2 separate regions of the Homo sapiens genome follow, and region 2 is linked to region 1. Evidence: fine-mapped expression QTL. A gene starts in region 1. The other region holds a variant in brackets. All regions are shown on one strand. Distances are between the middles of the regions.

Evidence for each region.
Region 2: its variant is fine-mapped to the expression of LMF1 in whole blood (TOPMed, PIP above 0.99).

Annotation. Positions count from the first base shown.
Region 1 is chr16:965,850-977,009 of GRCh38, forward strand. LMF1 (lipase maturation factor 1) reads right to left here and starts at 5,135. Exons shown (of 11, transcript NM_022773.4): 1 at 4,939-5,135. The coding sequence starts at 5,131. CEROX1 (cytoplasmic endogenous regulator of oxidative phosphorylation 1) reads right to left here. Exons shown (of 3, transcript NR_164343.1): 3 at 9,912-11,160. It overlaps LOC124903620 (a long non-coding RNA gene), which reads left to right and starts at 8,220. Exons shown (of 2, transcript XR_007064935.1): 1 at 8,220-8,762; 2 at 9,492-9,909. RefSeq lists enhancers at 3,340-4,331, 6,314-7,304 and a silencer at 4,377-5,546.
Region 2 is chr16:850,325-861,484 of GRCh38, forward strand. It overlaps LMF1 (lipase maturation factor 1), which reads right to left. Exons shown (of 11, transcript NM_022773.4): 11 at 3,310-4,382. The coding sequence ends at 4,208. Among named protein-coding and RNA genes, the nearest start is that of GNG13, 55 kb to the left of the region's middle. The variant G/A (reference allele first, on the strand shown) is at 4,798.

The sequences.
Region 1 (11,160 bases):
ACCACCTGCTACGGGTCAGCACATTTCACTGAGCAGGAGATGCCCCTAGAAGACAAGGGATAGAGGTATAAAGAAAGTCCTCTCCCTGACTGCAAGGAGCTAGAGGGGAGACAGGCACAAGAACAACACTGGAATGGGGACAATATCAGCCGCAAAGGAAGCAGAGAGCAGGGCTCCGGTGGTCAGCCCTGGGTGGGGTCAGGAGTCCACGAGTGATGAGGGCTAAGTCTGAAGGCCAGAAGGGTGTCGGCAGCCACGGAGAGAACAAGTACAGTTAACCCTGGGAAGGCAGAGGCCAGGTGGTCTCAGGACCACGGTCAGGAAGAGATGCCTCACGTGGCGGGGACACAGCGGGAGCAGTTCAGGCACCACGGCTCGTCCACTGGGGCCCCAGCCTCTCACTGCAAGCAGTGCAGGTGGACATCTGCCCCAGAGGCAGCAGGGAGCGTGTGTCCCAAAGCCCCCAGCACTCATGCCCTGTGCAGGCGCCGAGCAGCCGGCCCTGGCCGGGGCGGTTCCCTCCTAGGCCTGTCCAGGACTCGGCCCCCACAAACACATGGACCGACAGACGAAATCCCTCAGGAGTGTCTCTGCGCCGACGCCATGGCACCCACGAAAAGTGCCACACATAAAGTCAGTCTGCAAATGCCAACGTTACCCAGTCTTCATGTCACATTTCACCTACAGATCCCTTCCGAATTGTAACAATATCTCATAAATGTTTGAGCTTCAAAGGAAAGGTCCTTTCCGACGTTCAGATATATATACTCCGTGGCTGCCTGCGAGCCGTCTCCCAGGCGGGTGTGTCCTTGGTCCGCCTTCTGGGAAGTGTGCACAGGCAAGGAATCCCATGTCAGCCTCAGGACGGCCCAGCGGTCACTCTCACCTCATCAGTGACAGGAAGGTCTTGATGAGCAACTTGGCCAAGGCCACACAGCTAAGGTGTGGCCCACCAACCCTGAGCCCCACTACTTCCACCTGTCACAGCTTCCAGAAAGTTCTCTGCAGTGAACTGCTATCAACCCAATTCTGACCAACTGTAATTACACTGTTTCCAGATAACACCTTAATTCTGAGGCAGTTAAAATGCATTGTGTACATATACTATGTGACTCTCATCAATAGCAAACCAACGTCAGTTCAGTCCAGGAGAACCCACCCAGGGTGGGCAGCTCTAGCCTAGGGTGTCTTCAGTAGCACCTGCAAGGCTGTCCTTCCCCCGTCTTGTCAGGGAATCCAGCTCTACCACTGGCGCTGTAACAGACACAGGGCTGCTGGAAATTCCAGGAGTCCAGCCCCAGCTGCCTGTGGCCGCCCATGGACGGACCTGGCCAGGCCCCCTGGGAGGGGGATTTCAAAGCATCAAGGAGCCGGCCTGGCTGACGAGGCTCCAGACCAGCTGTTTGCCACACACGCCCCCGTACTGCAGGGTTGACCAGTGAGGGCCTCAATCTTCCGCAGGGAACGCCGGGCCACAACGTCGACGCACGACCCTGGGGGTTCCTGCCATAAAACAGTGAGGGATTCTGGCCAGGCTGCTCTGCCCTCTGTTCCGGTGAGCCTGGGCATGGTGCCCACTCTTGGGTTCGGTTTCCTTATTGCGCACACAGACAGCAGCAGGCCTGACTGCAGGAGGCACCGGCACCCATGGGCGGCCGGCACTGCCCCTACACACCAAGAACATGGCACCCAGGTCCCGCTGCTTAGGCCGGAAACTCCTGTCACATAAGCTTTTACTCGTCCAGATTTCAGCCATTCCTGGGAGTGACATCTGTGCTGAGGGGAAGCTCAGTGTCAGTGTCAGGCATCCCCGACCACCTCGGGCAGCCTCGGTCCTCCCAGGAGCCGTCACGGCCCGAGAACGCCGCTGCCCAGATGTGAACCGGGTGTCCAGGATACGCAGGCTGCACAGTGGCGTGAATGAAGGGCAGGGCTGAACTCCAGGGCCTACGGACAATCGCTGCACAGCCGGGCCAGTGGCTGACCCTGCTTCCTCGCTGTCCACTGGGGGTAGTGGCGTTGTCACCAGGAGGTCAGCACCGGGCAGGGTGCTACTTCAGCATCTGCTCAACGCAGTAATCACACTAGGGACCCGAGTCCACACGTCAGGAAGACAGGTGTGTCTTCAACTCTGAGCCCTGTGAAAATGCCGCTTTCCGCTAACACACTCCGGCTCCCACAGCACAGCAGGGCATGCCCGACACCCCAGGACGCCCGCGGTATGCACGTCTGTGTGCAGTGAGCACACCCCTAGCACCTACACACCTCGGTGGCAGCACATGGAAACGCCCAGGCCCGCGGTGGGAAGGAGCCAGCCCCAGGACGGATGCAAAGTCAGGTTGAATGCAGAGGCCTGTCGCTGGCAGCCGGCCTCTCCAGGTCTGGCTTCGAAGCTTCCCCGACAGGGCAGGCGTTTCTGTGTTCTCCTGATCTGTACATCTTTACTACATGTCTGCTGAGACAATCTGCCTAAGGGTAAGCCTCCCTCAGTTCAATGTCTTTTAACAAGGGGAGTTTCCACAGAATACATTTGGTTATGTGTTTAATTACAAGTGTTTCAATAGCTATAAACATTGTAAAATTCAGTATCAAGTGAAATATTTGGAGAGCCCCTATGGCAACTTGGAAAAACCCTGGGATTCTGAGGAACAGGGAGTAGCGCACAGTCCCAGTAAAATCCAGAACTTTCTAGAAGGAGATAAATGCAGGATGACTGCCTGCTTGCCCTGGGCCAGCTCAGCCAGAAAACCATGTCCCTGAAAGATGGGAAACTGGTTCCTTGATACAGCAGAAAAACACTGATTCTACCCCAAATGTACTCACAAGACAGAAGAACGTGCATATGTCAAGGAGAAATGTTCAATGCTGGGCACCAGGCTTAAAATATCCGCTTGACCCAGTGGCTTAAAAGCAGTTCCTTCTGAATTGAACAGAGAATCCCTGCGGAGATCAAAGGAGCCTCAGCTCGTTTGAAAGAGTCTGAGCTGGTTTTATGAAGCTGTGCTCCGGAGGCAAGGCCGCTGGGACTTCCTGCTGTATCTCGGGCTCCCCTGTGGAAGGCCTATTAGAGCCTCACAGCTTCACTTTATCTCTACTTCATCGTTTGCTAAGTGACAGCACCAACATTTAAAATGACTGTTTAATACTGTGGAGGGAAAAGCAACCTGGGAAGAACTACTTTTTAAAATAATTGCAGGCCGGGCATAGTGGCTCACGCTTGTAATCCCAGCACTTTGGGAGGCCCTGAGGTCAGAAGTTCGAGACCAGCCTGGCCAACATGGTGAAACCCTGTCTCTACTAAAAATATTTTTAAAAATTAGTCAGGCATGGTGGTGCGTGCCTATAATCCCAGCTACTCGGAAGGCTGAGGCAGGAGAATCGCTTGAACCCAGGAGACGGAGGTTGCAGTGGGCCGACATGGTGCCGTTGCGCTCCAGCCTGGGCAACAGAGTGAGACTCCGTCTCGAAAAAAATAAATAAATAAAATAAAATAGTTGCTTTAAAGAAAGAGAGAGAGAGACACAGACCCAGTTGAAGCCGATACTGCAATCCCACAGGAAACCTTGTAGTGATGAGCGCGTCTCATCACTTTGCACCAGGAGGTGGAAAGTATCACACAAATGTCACACAAAACGTCGAACTGAGCATCACTCCAGCACAACCAGGCTACCAAACTTCCCGCGACGTGTGTGGCACAAAGGCTGTGCAAAGAAGAACTTCTGCAACCTGACCCTTTCCTTCCACACGTGAGGGAAGCAGACGATGGAAGGAAAGGGAGACGTCCAATGCCCACGGCCTACAACCAACGCGTGGGCAACGCCCGGGGCCAGCAGCTCCGGAGCCCTCTGGGACGGTGACTGCCCACGCGCCCCGCTGGCTGCATCTCGGCCTGGCAGGCTCCCCTCACTTCCATACTCATTTGAGAGCCTCACTTGAGGTTCGTAGCTCCTGACACGTTGGGCTTATGAAACATGTATCCGTGTGATCACATGTCACCGTGATCACAGAACCGTTCTCTTCCAAACCAGTTCTGGGTTGTAGGGACTGGGGAGAGAGGGAGTTGGAATCGCCAGCTGCCCCTGGCCAGGGGATCCAGAGGTTTTGAGCGTGAACTGACTTTTCTCAGAGCTCTGCTCTGTAGGCTGCGCACGCGGGCCCCGCACAGCTGTGGGGTGAAGGGTCTCCGCCAGTGGACCCGGCCAACCACATCCCACAGTGAGGCGCAGGCTTCACTTGCAGATGAGGTTCCGGAGCTGCCCCCAGACCTCCGCTGGGAATCTTCCCGAACGCAGACTGAGCTAGTCGAGAACACTAAAGGAGAAACTCCAGTCTGGCCACCAGCCAGTCACCTTCCCTCAGCCCCTGGGAGACGCGAAGGAGGCTCCCGGGCCGGCTCCTCGGATTTTGGCAGGGGCCGCACGCGGCAGGGATGTGGCGTGCGGGCGTCCAGTTACAGTGGGAACCTTCACCGTCAGCACAGCGCTGTGTCGGGGACAGCAGGAGCGCCTCGCCTCTCCAGGCCGCCCCCCGCCCCGCAGCCAGGACGCAGACCCCCGACCTGCGCACGGACGGGTGACCCTCCACCTGCCCAGCTCTCCTGGGAACTCCTGGGCCAGGGCCCGGGCCGGCCCCGCCTCGCATAGCCCCGAGCCGGTCCTGGCAGGCGCGGCCGTGCAACTTCGGGGCTGCGGGTGGAACCGGGAGCCCAGGAGCCCAGGCCGGAGGCTCGAGGCGGCGACAGGGGTAGGGCCGGGTGCGCTGTCGCCAGCAAGCCTTGTCCTGCCCTGCCCGCCCCGCCTTGCCCGGGCCCCAGCAGGAAGGAGGGCTGCGTGGGGGCGCCGCGGCCGCGAGACCGCGCGGAGGAGTCTCGAGGGAGGGCGGGGGTCGTGGTGCGCGGAGGTGACACTGGCGGATGTCCCGGGCCCGCCCGGCACTCACAGTACACGAAGGCTAGGGCCTTCAGGAGCACGATCCGGGTCAGCCAGAAGGTGCCCGTGTGGAGATGGGCCGGAGAGCCTGCGGGGCCACGCCCCGGCGCGGGCGGCGACTCAGGCTCCGGATCCGAGTACCCAGTCTTCCGCCTCCTCAGCGACTCCGCGGGCGCCGCCATTGTTGGGCTGTCAGGGCGCATGTGCGGGGAGGGCGCACTCCCGGAGGCCCCGCCCATTCTCGGAGGCCCCGCCCATTCTCGGAGGCCCCGCCTCTCCCTGGCCGGCCCTGCCCACGGCCGAAGGCCCCACCCACACCCCGGGAGGCCCCGCTCACAGTCCCGGAGGCACCGCCCCCTCCAGCCGGCCCCGCCCACGCGCGGGAGCGGGTGCCCGGAGCCTGCCTCCTTCGCAGTTCTCGCTGGGCGCTGCTGCGGGTAGGGCGCGGGGCCGGGTACCTGGGAGGTGGTGCGCGTCGCCCGACCCGAGCTCACTGGGGCAGGCACGCGTGCCTTCCGTCAGTCCGAGTTGCAGAGGCCAGGTGCCCTCCCCCAGCCAGGCGCCTTCCCAGCTGTGGTCCTGGGGAAGGTGGGCTGCACAGGCCCTGGCGGTGCTACCACTGCGTGCCCCTGCCTCACAGCTGACACTCACTCTCTGCGGAGGAGGGTGCTAGGGCGATCGTCGCAGCCAGCAAGGGACAGAGTAGGCAGGGCTGTGCCTGGAATGCTCGGGGGACCCTCCCCTTTCTCCCAGCCTGAGCACCCTTCCGCCTTTGCACAACCCAGCTCCTGCCTGCCCTTGGGACTGGACTTCAAGCTGTGGGGGAAGAGGGGGACTCAGGACTCAGGAGGGAAGGGCTAACTGCCCAATGCCCCAAACAGAACATGAAGGAGGACGCCAGCACTCTACACTCTGATGACTGGAGCGGGGTTCTGGAGGCTGATGTGAAGCGGGTGCTAGGAAGGGCTGGGGTCACAGGCATTCCTTAGAGGAAAGAAAGGGCGTGAGGCTAGAGTAGGCATTGGAGACCTAGGGGTTAGTGAATAAACTGTGGGGCACTTAGGTGGAAGTGCAGATTTCTCCTTATTCATTTGTCAGCACTCTTTACGTATGAAAAATCCTGTTCTTTTGTGTATATTGGAAATATTTGTCCTGGTTTTTTGTTTTTGTTTTCATGTATTCTTCTCTTTTGCCTCTCTAGCTTTCCTAGTGTTTTGGCGTATCAATTATCGCCACTGGGTTGGTCAAATGACCCGTCTTTATTGCTTGTTTAATTACCTGTTTAATTATATCTTCACCACCTGCAGTGTGAGCCTTGTGTGGGCAGGGACTGACTGTGGACATCGGGCCCCCAAATCCAGGCCTGACCAGCAGTGGCCCGAGCTTCCTCTCAGCCTCCACCTTCCCTGTGTTGCTGGGGCCGTAGCATACGTGTACATCTTATGGTTTAATTCATTTTTAGTTTCCATTTCTTTTCTATGAAACCCCCCTTAGGAGCCCAGCTGTGAAATGGGACCCTGTTAAAGATGTTGCAACGGGTACGAACACACAAACATCCTCCGCATGCTGGCCCAGCCTCCGGGAGCGTGGTGTGTGCCTGAGGGCTCGGAGCCTTGGGGATCGCAGGAGGCATCGGCCCTGGCTGGCGCCCGGCACCCAAGTCCCTCCACAGAGCCCACGACCCGTACCTCTCCTCGTGACCTGGGGGCCAGCTTAGGAAGGGCCGGCACAGCCCACACTGTTCCCCTCATCTGTGGGGAACAGGGAGCCCCACACCCTGGGACCACGCCTGCAGAGCGGGCCCTGTCTGGGTGCCAGGCCTGCTAGGGGACGGACGGCGAGAGGGACTGCCCTGCGTCAGGTGTGGCCCTGCGCTGTCCTCAGGTGGGGCTGCCCTCACAAGGAGGCTTTGTGCACAGCTTCCCCTCGCTGGGCCGAGCTGCTCTCCCCGCGAAGGGCACAATGGGGCATTGTGCAGAGCAGAAAAGGGCCTCTTGTTCCAGCTTCCAGCGCTCCGGGCTCCGGCTCTGCATTTGCCCAGGGTGGGAGCAGTCAGCGGAAGGGTCTGCTGGGAGCTCCTGTTCTCTCTGAGCTCAAGTTTCCCTCAGGGTCTGCTCTCTTGAGACGCTGACCGCAGGGGTCCCATCCACTGCCCAGAATGGCTCCAGAGCAGGTCACCGGGGGCAGGGCTTGGGCCGGGGAGAGGTGGACCAGCAGCTCTGGTCGTGCCCATTTCAGCCTGAATTTAATCAAAAGTGCACTGGGTTATGATTCAGCCATCAAAAAGAATCCAGGAGCCGGGCGCCTGTCATCCCAGCACTTTGGGAGGCCGAGGCAGGTGGATCACCTGAGGTCAGGAGTTCAAGACCAGCCTGGCCAACATGGTGAAACCCCGCCTCTACTAAAAATACAAAAAAATTAGCCAGGTGTGGTGGCGGGCACCTGTAATCCCAGCTACTCGGGAGACTGTGACAGGAGAATCGCTTGAACCCGGGAGGTGGAGGTTGCAGTGAGCCTAGATCGCGCCACTGCACTCCAGCCTGGGCCACAGAGCGAGACTCTGTCTCACTAAAATAAAACATAAAATAAAAAGGAATCCAGTTCTGACACGTGCTACAACACAGATGAACCTCAGAACATCAAGCTCAGTGGGACAGGACAGACGCGGAGGTCATGAGTTGCGTGAGCCCATTTACATGAAATGTCCGGGGTGGGCAAAGCCACGGGGAAAGGAGGGAGCTCTGTGGTCCAGGTCTGGGGACGGGGAGTGGGGAGCCAGTGGTCCGGGGGTAGGACGTTTTCTTTTGGGCTGATGAGAATCTTCTGGAACTAGGCGATGGCTGCCCAGCACTGTGAGGTGCTAAACACCGAGTCGTTCACTGGCAAATGGCTTATTTCATGCTATGTGAATTTCGCCTCGAATTTTAGAAAAGTAAAATGAGGCCGGGCACCGGGGCTCACGCCTGTAATCCCAGCACTTTGGGAGGCCGAGGCGGGTGGATCACGAGGTCAGGAGATCGAGACCATCCTGGCTAACACGGTGAAACCCCGTCTCTACTAAAAATACAACAACAACAACAAAATTAGCCGGGCATGGTGGCGGGCGCCTGTAGTCCCAGCTACTCGGGAGGCTGAGGCAGGAGAATGACGTGAACGCGGGGGCTGGAGCTTGCAGTGAGCCGAGATCGTGCCACTGCCCTCCAGCCTGGGCGACAGAGCGAGACTCTGTCTCAAAAAAAAAAAAAAAAAGTAAAATGAAAACAAAAGACAACAGACAGCCCTGCACTGGTGTTTCAGAATCGCCCGGAAGGCGCTGTCACCTGTCGGAATACATCATGTCATTTACGCTCACCTTACTTCTTTGTCTATATTAAGGCGCATCTAGCAGTTTAAAAATAACATTTAGATACAGGTGTGTCTTATTCTCTAAGAAGGCACTTCACTTAAAAACAGGCTTCTCTGCAAACCCAGAGTGAGCTGCAGCGGCCGGGAGATCGGCCAGGTGTGGTCCTTTCACCCTGCAGCTCAGTGTCCTGTGACCACAGGCACGTGGGCCCTGCCCTGAGCGCCTCACACCAACCCGAGGCGGGAGGAGGAGGAGGGCGTCCTGAGAGTGCCCTGTCAAGCAAAAACTCTAAGAGAAAAAGCCAGGCTGACCCAGGAGAGGCCTGAGGGAGGGGAGTGGAGATGAGGCTCGGCCACCCCAGGGCTGCCCGGTGCTGGGGGAGAAGACGCTGAGAAGAGGAGGAGAATGGGGAGGAAGGGACGGACACCCCAAGAGCACGCAGGCTGAAGACTGGGCTGCCTCCCCGGAGACCGACCAGCCTGCCCTAGGTGGGACCCTGTCCCCGCCGTCCCGGCCTGCGCCAGCACAGCCCCCAGGACCCAGGCACACACAAGCCCGTGGCTGGCCACGCTCCCAGCAGCTGCGGGCCGGCTTCAGGGAGGAATGAGCCCCTGTCGGCACCTCGTCCAGCTGTCCCCCAGCACCCCGGCCTGGCAGCTCCCGCCTCCTCGGGGCCATTGTCCCTGGCATGCGGTGGCAGCTGTCTCTGGCACCCGCAGGAAGCCAGTGTGGGCCCGAAGATAATCGTGCACCCTTCATTTACCCCAATTTTTCATGTCCTGAAGTCTGGGTATGGAAGGGGGGCCCAGGACCCGTGGATGCTAACATCTGTTGCCTCCTCCTGGAAGGGTGGTCAGTTTGGGCAGATCCTGCTGTGACTGTCCAGCGGCCAACCCCCCCACCCCCCACGTGAGGCTGGCAGGTGCGGGTGGGGGCTGAGAGAGCAGGTGTTGTGCCATTTGCTGGTTGTCCTGGGACGATGACTCACAGACGGCTGTTCTGCTTGGCTCACCCTGTCCTCTCCCTGCACCCTCGGCTACAGGTCACGAGTGTTCCCACCCCTGCACCCCAGAAGGAGATGCGGCTCCATGTGACCCTGCAAGCTGGCAAGCCATGGTTTCTAGACAGTGGAAAGCACAGCTCCCAATGTGGTGGTGTTCTCCGGTTGCAGGGCCCTATGTTAGGAAACGAATGTGTAATTTTTTTTTTTTCTCTAGGAATCATATTCTGCACTGGAAGAAGCCTTGAGAGTTGCCTGGCCCAGAGGTCACAAACCAGAGCCCTGCGGGCTGAGCTCTACCCACAGTGCAGTTATCAGTCACCGTGTAGCGGTCACCGACGGCCACATTAATGCTGCGTAACAAACAGCCTCAGAGCCCACCGTTGTGTGTCGCCAGGCGGTGCTGTCCATGCCCAGGCCCCAAGAAAGGCAGGGGAAAGGCTGAGCTGGGCCTGTGCCCTCTGTCCCTTCCTATGAGCCTCTAGAGCAAAGCTTTGCTGAAGGCTGTTGTCTGAACCAAGGCCACAGAGGAAGCACGCTCCCTGCTCCCACTTTGCCCCTCGTACCCGCCTGAGGGCATCTTAATTAAGCCTTCCTTCCCCACGCTCAGAAAAATAAATACTTGGGAGACAGCAGAGACATTTTCACAGGGTGTGTTTTCATTTGCCTTTGGCACTAATGGGTCTCTGGAACGTTCCATCCTGGCCGGGGAGGTCAGGGCCTGGGCGGCCAGGGCCCATTTCGAGAAAGCAGGTTTTCCTTTGTGGCATGCTTATTTCAAGCACCATTTTCCCTCCTGGTTATACTTGAAATGGGGCTCGGTGTTGGGAGGTTTCAAATGTGGACATTCCGGGCAAGGGGCCTCATGAACTCTGTGGACATTCTGGGCAAGGGGCCTCATGAACTCTGAAGGTTGAGCTTGGAAGGACGGACACAGGTCTTGGCAGCCTGAGTGGGTACAAACGCTGATTTTTCTGGAGTCAGTCCTCTCCTGCTGATGGGCTGAGAGAGCCCCCCAGGCCCTGTGTCCCTTCTCAGAGGACCTCAGCCCCCCAGTGCCTGGGCCACGGATGGGCTGGGGGCTGGGGCCCAGGGCCTCGCATCCTACAAGGGCCCAAGGGCTGAAATGGGGCTGGGGTCCCTGGATCTAGGGGATGAGGGCCCAGAACGAGGCTGGGGTCTGGGGTTCAGTGGAGCAATGACCAGGAATCAGGCTGCGATCTGTAGTCCAGGTGTCTGGCGTCAGACAGCACCCTCCTGTACACGGCACAGCTGTACTGCAGGGTTAGGGACAGGATTTACTGCCACCAACGGAAGCGTTGATTCCAAGTCTCAGACACCGCCCCCAGGCTGGGCCTCCCTCGACGGAAGGTGACGCTCTCTGGGAGGTCCTTGGTGCTCACCTCCCTGGCTGCTTGGGGCCCCAGGGCTCCTGCCTAGGGATGTTTTGGGGCTGCAGAAGGACCCTCTGCCCATTATCAGACGAGAAGTGCAGAGAGCAAATGCGTGCTGTTGGCGCCCCCCACCCCCACACTGAGAGTGGAGACGGATAGGCCCAGCCAGAAGCTTGGGGACCCGCTCCCAGCCTGGAGTGACGGACGCTGAGCAGCAGGAGCACAGCTGTTCCCGACACATCCGTGATCTGGGCGTGCACCTGTCACTGGGGAGAGAGCAGTGCTGGTCTCCACGCTTTGGGCATCGCCTGCTCCCTGAATCCTTTCCACATGCGAACAGCCTGGGCAGGGGTCCCCAGCGGTCAGTAGCTACTCCCGCCAGCGCGGGTTCACGGATCAGGAGGCTCCCAGTGTGTCAGGGGAGTGCGAGGTGAAGATGGGGAGGGCTGGGCTGGAAATGCTCGTCCTCCGTGGAGGTCGGGGGCATCAGGA
Region 2 (11,160 bases), 120 kb before region 1:
GTTGTTCTCATCGGAAGGTACTGGTTGTTCTCGTTGGAAGGTATGTGGCCGTGTGTGGGATGATTTCTCGGGTTGTTCTCATTGGAAGGTACGTGGCTGCATGTGGGACAATTTCTCGGGTCATTTTCGTCGGAAGGTACCTGGTTGTTCTTGTCGGAAGGTACCTGGTCGTTCTCGTTGGACGGTACCTGGCCGCGTGGGGGATGATTTCTGTGGTTGTTGTTGTCAGAAGGTACCTGGTTGCATGTGTGGAATGATTTCTCGGGTTGTTCTTGTCGGAAGGTACCTAGTTCTCGTCGGAAGGTATGTGGCCGTGTGTGGGATGATTTCTCGGGTTGTTGTCATTGGAAGGTACGTGGCTGCGTGTGGGACGATTTCTCGGGCTGTTCTCGTCAGAGGTACCTGGCCGCATGCGTGGGACGATTTCTCAGGTTGTTCTCATTGGAAGGTACCTGGCCACGTGTGTGGGACGATTTATTGGGTTGTTCTCGTCGGATGGTACTTGGCCACATGTGGGACGATTTCTCTGGCCGTTCTCGTCAGAAGGTACCTAGCCGTGTGTAGGACGATTTCTCGGGTTCTTGTCGGACGGTACCTGGCCGCATGTGGGATGATTTCTCGGGTTGTTCTCATCGGACAGTACCTGGCCGTGTGTGTGGGACGATTTCTCGTGTTGTTCTCATTGGGCGGTACCTGGCCGCATGTGGGACGATTTCTCGGGTGGTTACTGTGCCCCGTTTATCTCTAGGTCTCCATGCTGCTGTGATACTGTTTTGACGAGGGAGCTTTCTTTTCTGCCACTGTGGGCCAGCTGCTGCCGTCTGTGGTATTCTTGTGTGTTGCTGATCTGAAGCTCCAAAGCTGCCATTCTCCCAAACCTTCCTGCTCAGATGAGGACCTGGGCAGTCTGAGACCTCCAAGCTGCAGTGAGAATGGCTGAGGGCCTGACCCAGCCAGGGAGGCTGCTCTGGGGACTCCAGGGTGCCTCTCCCTTCCCCCAGGCCCACAGTTGACCCAGCAGACCCACACTGAGGGCCTGGTGCGGGACTGGGGCAGCTTAGTGTCAGGGCGCAGAGCAGGCCCTGGAGAGCCAGGGGGTTGCCGTGTGGGCGCTGGCACTGGTTGCTAGTGTAAAGGCCCCACGGCCCTGACCACACAGGGACCCCAGACGTTTGGGGGAGATGGGCTCAGTGTGGTGAGGCCTTGGGACTATCTGCCAAAGACAGATGAGGTGAGGGGAACCCAGCCTTGGAAGGGTCAGGTGTGACAGACTCTGGGTCTGCAGAGGGTGCAGGCTCCACTCCAGCCGAGGCTGTCACAACCCGACCTCAGGTCACCTGTCCGCCCCAGGTGAGTGGACGTCTCTGGGAACCTGGATCCAGAGACTGGACCCCCACCATTAGGGCTCCTCTGCCTGCCAGCTGAGGGGGTCTCCCTGAGCAGGGCTGGACACTCACGGGTCAGAGCCAAGGGCTCCATGGAGTGGGCCCTCGAGGCCCCCAGCTGGGTCCAGGGGCCCCCCTATTTTTGTGACCTTGGTGGGGTACCCAGAGGTGGTAGCAGACCTGCCTTCCACAGTGACAGGCCCCCGAGGCTGGCCGAGATGGGGAGGGCAGATCACACCATGACTCCCACCCCGAGCACCCCTTCAGATGCCCAGGCCTCCGCCCCCAGGGGACTTCCTGACCACAGGCATCGGCCTGACACGTGTCGGGGCCACTGGCCCCATTGCCCCACACCGGCAGGTGGGACCCTCCGTCACACAGAACACAGGCAGCCGGGGGCTGGGCGTCTCGCACAGACTCTGTGGAGAGTTCAGACGTGAGGGAAGAAGCTGACATGCCCGATGGGAGGGCTGAGGCCCGTGATTCCGTTTATATGAAGGGTCCCGAACAGGGACCCACAGAGGCATGAGATGGATTCCCTGGGGCTAGAGGCTCTGTCTGGAAGATGGAAATGGGCTGGATGGAGGGGAGGTGGATGCACGGCCTCGGGAGCGCACTCCACACCACAAACTGTTCGCTTAATGACGGCCCTGGTCCACTTCATGCTGTGTGACTTGACCCCACATGCCCTGTGACCCCACCCCCAGGTCCCCTGGGAAGTCACAGCTGCCATCCCCAACGGAGGATGAGGGTGTCTGCTCCAGGGCTCTTGCAGGCCCTTCCCGTGGTCCCAGGACAGTGCTGCGGAGTCTCTGGGCTGTGGGTCCCATGAACGGGGTGCCCAGTCACTACTGCTGTGGGCTCCTGCCCTGCCCCCCTTGACCAGGACCTGCAGCCCCACTACGGGGTCCCCGGGAGACCAGTGGTGCACAGCTGCCCTGGGACAAGAGGAGCCTGGAGCGGGGTGAAGGAGCCCGGGAGGAGGGGCTGTGGGATTCGGGACCCACTACGGGGAGGACAGCCGCACGGGAGGGTTCCGGGCAGGGGGCATGGAGGGCTGTTGGCTCCTCAGGTCTCCCCCTTGCAGAGGCTGGGCAGGGGCACCCCGTGGCACCAGCCTTTCCCAGGCGATGGGTCCCTCGGGTTCCCACAACTGCCGCTGCCTGAGATGTCCGCCCCTGAGCTGTGCCACAGGGCTGGGCCCCACCAACAGCAGAGTCCCTGGGACAGCCCCCCGGGAAGGGCCGCCCAGGCCCCTGTGGCCGACAGCTCCGCGTGGTCGCTCCGGCAGACTTGCTGGCTCCTGGTGCGTCCCTCTGAGGCCCTGTCTGTCCCTCCACAGACACAGGGCGCCCTGTTTCCCCGGGAGCTGGAACACGGGCCCTCTGTTGGCACCTGGGCTGGCTGTCCCCCCCGGGCAGGCCGAGGGGGGGCTCCACACAGACCCACACTGTGCCTACCGCAGCCGCCCTCCTCGGCCTGAACCACCGTGTTGTCCCCACTGGGGCCCCCCACAGTGGCTCAGCCGTGGGCATCATGGCTCCAGGTGCCGTGGATGGAGGCAGGGGGAAGGGGTGGGTGGGGGAACCGCCCCCCCAGGCTGGGGGAGAGGGGAGGGCCTCTGTCCTATGGTGGGGCCCACTTCTGACTTCTCCCAGGACCCAGCCTCACAGCGTCCTGGGTGGGGGACGTTGCCCCAGAGCTTTGCCTCCTTCCGGCAGGGCTGGCACCCCTGCTCATTCCCATTTACTCCAAGTATTGCCGCAGCAGACACTGGAAGGGTCGCCAGGCAAAGCACCACCCATTCACCTCTCCATCAAGCTCCCGCTCGGTCACCCGCTGCCCCAGCATCAGAGTGTGGGCTGGGGGCACGGCCACCGCCAAGGGGAGGGAGGTACAAGAACTTCTTCATTTAAACAGTGTGTTTTCGAGTAAGCTGGTAAGTGGTATAATAGGAATAGTAGAAGAATATGCCATAGCTATGGCTCAAGAATAGGAATAAGAAAAATGTGCAGTAGACGCTGTTTGTCCGACGATGATGAAAGTGTGCACGGCCGGCTGTCCTCCGATTGAGGGGCCTTGTCAAGGCCTCAGAGGCAGCGAGGTCACAGCCTGGTGGAGGGTCTGGGTGTGCGCTGTGTCCATCTGCACCTCACAGACACCAGTCATGGGGGGATGAAACCGGGCCAAGAACACATGTGTGCACAGGCTGTGTGTGCCTGCATGTGTGGGATGCGTGTAGGCTGTGGCGGGGGTGGAGATGAGGGATAGGACAGAAAATGGCCCATCCAACCCCACATCCTGGCCGGGCGTGTCCAGGTCCCTGTGGGGCGAGGGTTTGGCTGCCCCAGACGTGACAGGGACTTGGCTCTGAGGGTCAGGACCTGGCTGGGAACACACCATTGAAGAGGGAACAGAAACCAGGCCCTGGGACGCTAGAGACCCCAAGAGCTACCTGGCTGGGTCTATGGTCAGGGCTGTAGTGGAGGAAGGTGTCAGGATGGCCATTGTCTCAACTCCTGTGGGCGGCACAGCCCCAGGCTGGGCCTCTGGGAGGAGGGTGGGATGGATGGGAGATCAGAGCCCCTGGCGCCTGGGACAAGGGTTGGCCTGGATGTGGGGCCCCAGGTGGGCAGGGCCTGGGAGCCGCCACAGTATGTGACAACAGACCCCACCCTGGACCCCCGTGCTGGGGGCTGGGTCCCACCGCTCTCCTCTCCACGTCTCTCTTGGCGATGCCCAGCTTGGGCTGGGCGCAGGGAAGGGCAAACGTTGCTGAGCCGCCGAGGGGCTGGGTCTTCGCCTTTATTTCTGGTGCACGTCTAGAGGGGCCCGGGCAGAGGCCACCCACGGTCCCTGAAGTAGGGCCTCAGCTCCTCCAGGCTGAGCGGAGGGAAGTAGGCTCCGATCCTCTTCCGCACCCACCACTTGCCCTCGGCGGCGTGCCTGCCCCCAGGACGGCTGAACTTGTACCTGTAGTGCTCTCCTCGGACCCACCTGCAAGGGGGCACATGTCAGCCCAGGGCCTGCTGGGACTCCCGGCCCCCGACCCGGCTCCTCAGCCTGCTGCTGAGCTGCAGCTGCTCACAGGGTCCCCCACGGACAGAGGGGCTGCATGAGGAGCCCCCACCCTGAGCACAGGTAGACCCCCAGCAGACCCCGGGCAGGGCAACTGTTCCAGTCGGCACCCTCAGCAGTGAACAGCGCAGCAAGGGGGAAGGGCGGACGGGGGGCAGCTCCGGGAGGGGAGACCCAGCAGGGCCCACTTGGCAGAGGGACCGGCCCGGGGAAGGCCAGGAGCTTCACGGGTGGCACTGAGCAAGCCTGAGACCGTTCACAAGGCCCCAGTTTGAGCCCCAAGTGTCCCCCGCCTGGGAAGGTGGGGAGAGGAACCTACTGCTCATGGTGTGGC[G/A]TCTCCACCATCAGGCCAGTCCTGGCGCAAGGTGCCTGGGGGTTTCGGTCCACGGGGCAGTCCGAGGCTGTGAGGGAGCCAGGCCGGGACCTGTTTCCTGAGGGCGGAGCCTCTGCTTCCCAGGGCTTCAGGCCCTTCCCTGCCTGAGACGTGCAGATGCTGGCTGGCTGCTCTCCTCTGTCATGCCCGAGTGGGATGAAGGCCCCCACCCCCATCTCCCCTGGAGCAGGGTAGCGGGCAGGTCTCTCTGCTGAGCCCTGTATAAGGTCCCGCCTGACCCCTGGTGACCAGGCCTGGTTTAGGCCATACTGGGTCTTGGTCCCTGGCTGGCAAGCCCTCACTGGACTCTCGGAGGACTGGGCATTTTCTCCTGGGGGTGGGACGAAGCCCCCTCATGTCCAGGGTTGCTCGGCTGCCCCGGAGGAGGAGGCGCCAGGAGGAATTGTCACCGTCACAAGCTCCCGGCCCTCCAGGCCCCTTCGCAGTTGTGCAGCAGGAGCGGAAGCTTCTCAGCCCACAGGGCGGCTGCTGCCTGGCTGGGATCCATGGCAGAGCTGGGCCCCAGCTGCCCGGTGGGTGTGATGGTGCAGCCATAACAGGACCCTCTCATGGCCCCTGGAATGAGCCCAGGCAGGTGCCAGAGGCTTCACACTGCACCAGGGCCCGGTAGCGACTGTCTGGGCTGCTGTCATTATTTGGGGCTTCTGGTGACCTGCACACAGCTGTGCTCTGGGGGCTGGGGGTGGAGACCTTGGGCCATGCCCCTTAGGCTGGCAGGGTGAGGGCCTCTGGGTCCACCCGGCTCCTCCTGGCTTTGAGTCTCTTTGGGTCTGGGTGTGTGATGGATGATGATTCTTCTCTCCCCAAGTCTGAATTACGCCAGGAAAACCGGGAAGACAGAGACCCTCTGGGTGGAGGAGGGTCCCTGAGGCGCCTGATGGGAGAGAGGGATCAGCAGCTCCAAGAGGAGTGGGGTCGGGCCTTTGGAAAACCTCCCGGGCAGCCAAGACTGAGGGTGATGCTGGCAGTTGGTGGCTCCCGTCCACTCCAGGAGGGCACTGCCCACTGCCCTGGGCCCCAGGGGTCTTTCCTGGACCCCTTGGGCCTGAGGCTGCCATGGTTTTCCTTGGCTATAAGGACGGCAGCGGCCAGCATGGGGACTGAGGCCAGGTGGTGCCAGGCAGAGAAGTCACACTGGACCCCGAGGTCGACCTCTGAGCAGCTCAGCAGCAGACTGAAGGGACGGGCTGGAATGCGGCCGTGAGGGCGCTGGGCTGTGCGGGCAGCATGGTCCCTGCACACTCTCCTGGGCCTTGCTAGGGCAATGCAGTCCCCAGGCAGGCCCACCCTCTCCCAAACCCTGCATTTAGTGAGGCCGGGAGGGTGGGGATCCTGGGAAGGCCTCCTGCAGTGGGATTGCCCATCTTTCCCAAATTCCTGCTCTTGCTTTCTGCTCCTTCCCAGGACAGGGTCAAGGCCTAGGGGGCCCAGGGCCTGGTCTCTGACATCAAGAGCTGGAACTGCAGTTTGGAAAGGGTTTTGGAAAGGGTCAGAACCCTCTGTGCCAACTGGCAGGTTGGTGGGAAGGGGCCCCAGGCCCCAGCGGCCTGAAGGGTTGCATTTCATTCCTGCAGACAAAGTACCCGAGAAGGCCATGGCACCGCCCCGGAGGGCTTGAGAGTGTTGAAAATAGGGGATCTCCCAGCCCTTTTGAAATAGACCCTACTGGCAACAGCTGGGCATCTTGCACAGCTATAGTAGGGATTGCAGCCAGGGCCTGACACTGAGGCCACAGACACGGGTCCCATCCACGCCCGGACCCCCGTGTCCTTCCACACCCTCCCCGACCTTCGGCCTCCTTGTGTGATTTCAAGAACGTATGATTTCAAGAATGAGTGGAACCCTGCGGCACGTACCCGCGGGGCAGGCGATTCTCACGCCAATTCTCAGGTTCCGCCAGGTCGTGTGATGGAGGCTTCCTTCCTCCTCGTCGCTGACCGGCGTCTGCGGCGTGAGTGCACCCTAGTTTGTGCGGTCGCTCTCTTGTGGAAGGACAGCTGAGCTCTTTGCAGTTTTTGTCTGTGACGGCTGCCGTAAACCTCTGCACGGGTTTCTGCGTGAACCTGGGTTTCAACTCTCTGGCTTAAACGTCCATGGAAGCAGCTGCTGAGTCCACTGCAACTTCGGGTGTCCTTTTTGAGGAGCCATTTTACCCTCCCAGCAACAGCCGAGTGACTCGATTTCTTGGTATCTTTGCCAGCATGTGGGGTTGTTGCTACTTTTATTCCAGCCGTTTTGATGGGTGTGCAGTGGTGTCACGGGACGGGTGTGAGTGGTGTCTCGGGACGGGTGTGAGTGGTGTCACCGGACGGGTGTGAGTGGTGTCTCGGGACGGGTGTGAGTGGTGTCACGGGACGGGTGTGAGTGGTGTCACGGGACGGGTGTGAGTGGTGTCTCGGGACGGGTGTGAGTGGTGTCACGGGACGGGTGTGAGTGATGTCACGGGACGGGTGTGAGTGGTGTCACGGGACGGGTGTGAGTGGTGTCACGGGACGGGTGTGAGTGGTGTCTCGGGACGGGTGTGCGTGGTGTCTCGGGACGGGTGTGCGTGGTGTCTCGGGACGGGTGTGCAGTGGTGTCTCGGGACGGGTGTGCGTGGTGTCTCGGGATGGGTGTGCGTGGTGTCTCGGGATGGGTGTGAGTGGTGTCTCGGGATGGGTGTGAGTGGTGTCTCGGGATGGGTGTGCGTGGTGTCACGGGATGGGTGTGCAGTGGTGTCTCGGGATGGGTGTGCGTGGTGTCTCGGGATGGGTGTGCGTGGTGTCTCGGGATGGGTGTGCGTGGTGTCTCGGGATGGGTGTGCGTGGTGTCTCGGGATGGGTGTGAGTGGTGTCTCGGGATGGGTGTGAGTGGTGTCTCGGGATGGGTGTGCAGTGGTGTCTCGGGATGGGTGTGAGTGGTGTCTCGGGATGGGTGTGAGTGGTGTCTCGGGATGGGTGTGAGTGGTGTCACGGGATGGGTGTGAGTGGTGTCTCGGGATGGGTGTGCGTGGTGTCACGGGATGGGTGTGAGTGGTGTCTCGGGATGGGTGTGCGTGGTGTCACGGGATGGGTGTGAGTGGTGTCACGGGATGGGTGTGCAGTGGTGTCTCGGGATGGGTGTGCAGTGGTGTCTCGGGATGGGTGTGCAGTGGTGTCTCGGGATGGGTGTGAGTGGTGTCTCGGGACGGGTGTGCAGTGGTGTCTCGGGACGGGTGTGAGTGGTGTCTCGGGACGGGTGTGAGTGGTGTCACGGGACGGGTGTGAGTGGTGTCACGGGACGGGTGTGAGTGGTGACTCGGGACGGGTGTGCAGTGGTGACTCGGGACGGGTGTGCGTGGTGTCTCGGGACGGGTGTGCAGTGGTGTCTCGGGACGGGTGTGCAGTGGTGTCTCGGGACGGGTGTGAGTGGTGTCTCGGGACGGGTGTGAGTGGTGTCTCGGGACGGGTGTGCAGTGGTGTCTCGGGACGGGTGTGCAGTGGTGTCTCGGGACGGGTGTGAGTGGTGTCACGGGACGGGTGTGAGTGGTGTCACGGGACGGGTGTGAGTGGTGTCTCGGGACGGGTGTGAGTGGTGTCTCGGGACGGGTGTGACTGGTGTCACGGGACGGGTGTGCAGTGGTGTCACGGGACGGGTGTGAGTGGTGTCTCGGGACGGGTGTGAGTGGTGTCACGGGACGGGTGTGAGTGGTGTCACGGGACGGGTGTGAGTGGTGTCTCGGGACGGGTGTGCAGTGGTGTCTCGGGACGGGTGTGCAGTGGTGTCACGGGACGGGTGTGCAGTGGTGTCACGGGACGGGTGTGCAGTGGTGTCACGGGACGGGTGTGCAGTGGTGTCACGGGACGCGTGTGCAGTGGTGTCACGGGACGGGTGTGAGTGATGTCACGGGACGGGTGTGAGTGGTGTCACGGGACGGGTGTGAGTGGTGTCTCGGGACGGGTGTGCAGTGATGTCTCGGGACGGGTGTGCACTGATGTCACGGGACGGGTGTGCAGTGGTGTCTCGGGACGGGTGTGAGTGGTGTCTCGGGACGGGTGTGAGTGGTGTCTCGGGACGGGTGTGCAGTGGTGTCACGGGACGGGTGTGCAGTGGTGTCACGGGACGGGTGTGAGTGGTGTCTCGGGACGGGTGTGAGTGGTGTCTCGGGACGGGTGTGCAGTGTTGTCACGGGACGGGTGTGCAGTGGTGTCTCGGGACGGGTGTGCAGTGGTGTCTCGGGATGGGTGTGCAGTGGTGTCTCGGGAGGGGTGTGCAGTGGTGTCTCGGGACGGGTGTGAGTGGTGTCACGGGACGGGTGTGAGTGGTGTCTCGGGACGGGTGTGAGTGGTGTCTCGGGACGGGTGTGCAGTGTTGTCACGGGACGGGTGTGAGTGGTGTCTCGGGACGGGTGTGCAGTGATGTCACGGGACGGGTGTGCAGTGGTGTCTCGGGACGGGTGTGCAGTGGTGTCTCGGGACGGGTGTGCAGTGGTGTCTCGGGACGGGTGTGCGTGGTGTCTCGGGACGGGTGTGCAGTGGTGTCTCGGGACGGGTGTGCAGTGGTGTCTCGGGACGGGTGTGCAGTGGTGTCTCGGGACGGGTGTGCAGTGGTGTCTCGGGATGGGTGTGAGTGGTGTCTCGGGATGGGTGTGCAGTGATGTCACGAGATGGGTGTGAGTGGTGTCTCGGGATGGGTGTGAGTGGTGTCACGGGATGGGTGTGCAGTGGTGTCTCGGGATGGGTGTGAGTGGTGTCTCGGGATGGGTGTGCAGTGGTGTCACGGGATCGGTGTGAGTGGTGTCACGGGATGGGTGTGCAGTGATGGTACCGGATGGGTGTGCAGTGGTGTTATGGTGGTTTTTGCTTCTCTAATGACAGGCATTTCTCCTGAGCTTATCTGTCATCTGTGCACCTTCTTTGGTGAAACGTCTCTGTGCTCATTTTCTAATAAGATTATTTTAGTATTAAGTTATGAAACTTCTTTACATATTCCAGATTTTAGACTATTGTCAGATACGTGACTTGCAAATATTTTCTGTCTGTAGCTTAAAAATTATCTTTGTTCTCTTAACAGGTCTTTTTATGGAGCAAATGCTTTTAATTTTAATGAATTTCAATTAATTTTTCCTTTCACAGATCATCTTTAAGTATAATGACTCTGCCTGGCCCTAGATCCCAAAGATTTTCTTCTATTTTTTCCTGAAAGTTTTTTTTTTTTTGAGATGGGCTCTCGCTCTGTTGCCCAGGCTGGAGTGTGGTGGTGTGATCTCGGCTCACTGCAACCTCTGCCTCCCAGGCTCAAGTGATCCTCCCACCTCAGCCTCCCGAGTAGCTGGGACTACAGGCATGTGCCACCAGGCCCTGCTAATTTTTTGTGTTTTTAGTAGAGACGGGGTTTTGCCACGTTGCTCAGGCTGGTCTCAAACTCCTGAGGTCAAGCAATCTGCCCACCTTGGCCTCCCAAAGTGCTGGGATTACAGATGTGGGCCACCATGCCTGGCCCTGAAAGTTGATTGTCTTATGCTTTACGTTGAAGTCCAGGATCCGTTTTGAGTTATTTTTGTGTGGGGTGAGACGTGGGTCGAAGATTTTGTTTTTGTCCATGGAATTGCTTTTGCGCTTTTGTAAAAAAAACTCATCCGGGCATGTTTGTTTGGGTCTCTTTGTGGGTTCTCTGTTGTGTTCCATGGAATTGCATGTCTGTCCCTCTGTCAATACTACACTGTGTTGACTACTGTAGTTCTGTGTCTTGAAACTGGGTAGATTGATTCGTTCCACCTTGTTCTCTTTCAAAATGGTTTTAGCTATTTTTGCTCCTTTACATTTCCATAGAAAACTTGGGATGACTTGTCCTTACCTATTAACACATCTTGCTGGGTTTTTTTTTTAATAGGAATTGCATTAAACCTGTCCATCAATCTGGAAGGACCTGTCATCTCCACGTTGTTGTATCTTCCAACCCACGAACGCGGCCGTGTCTCTAGGTGTGTGCTGACGTCTTTCAGCAGCATTGCTGAGTTTTCAGCATGTAAGTTCTGTGCATGTTTTGTCAGGTTTATACCTAAGTATTTCGCTTTTTGGAGTGGTTTTAAGTGGTTCTGCGTATTTAATTTAGGTGTCTGTGTGTTCATTGCTAGCGTACAGGAATACTATTGAATCATTTAGGTTGATCTTGTGTCTTCTGACTTTGCTGAACTCACTTATTAATTTTCTTTCTTTTTTTTTTTTTTTTTTTTTGAGATGGAGTTTCACTCTGTCGCCCAGGCTGGAGTGCAGTGACGCAATCTCAGCTCACTGTAACCTCTGCCTCCCCGGTACAAGCAATTCTCCTACCTCAGCCTCCTGA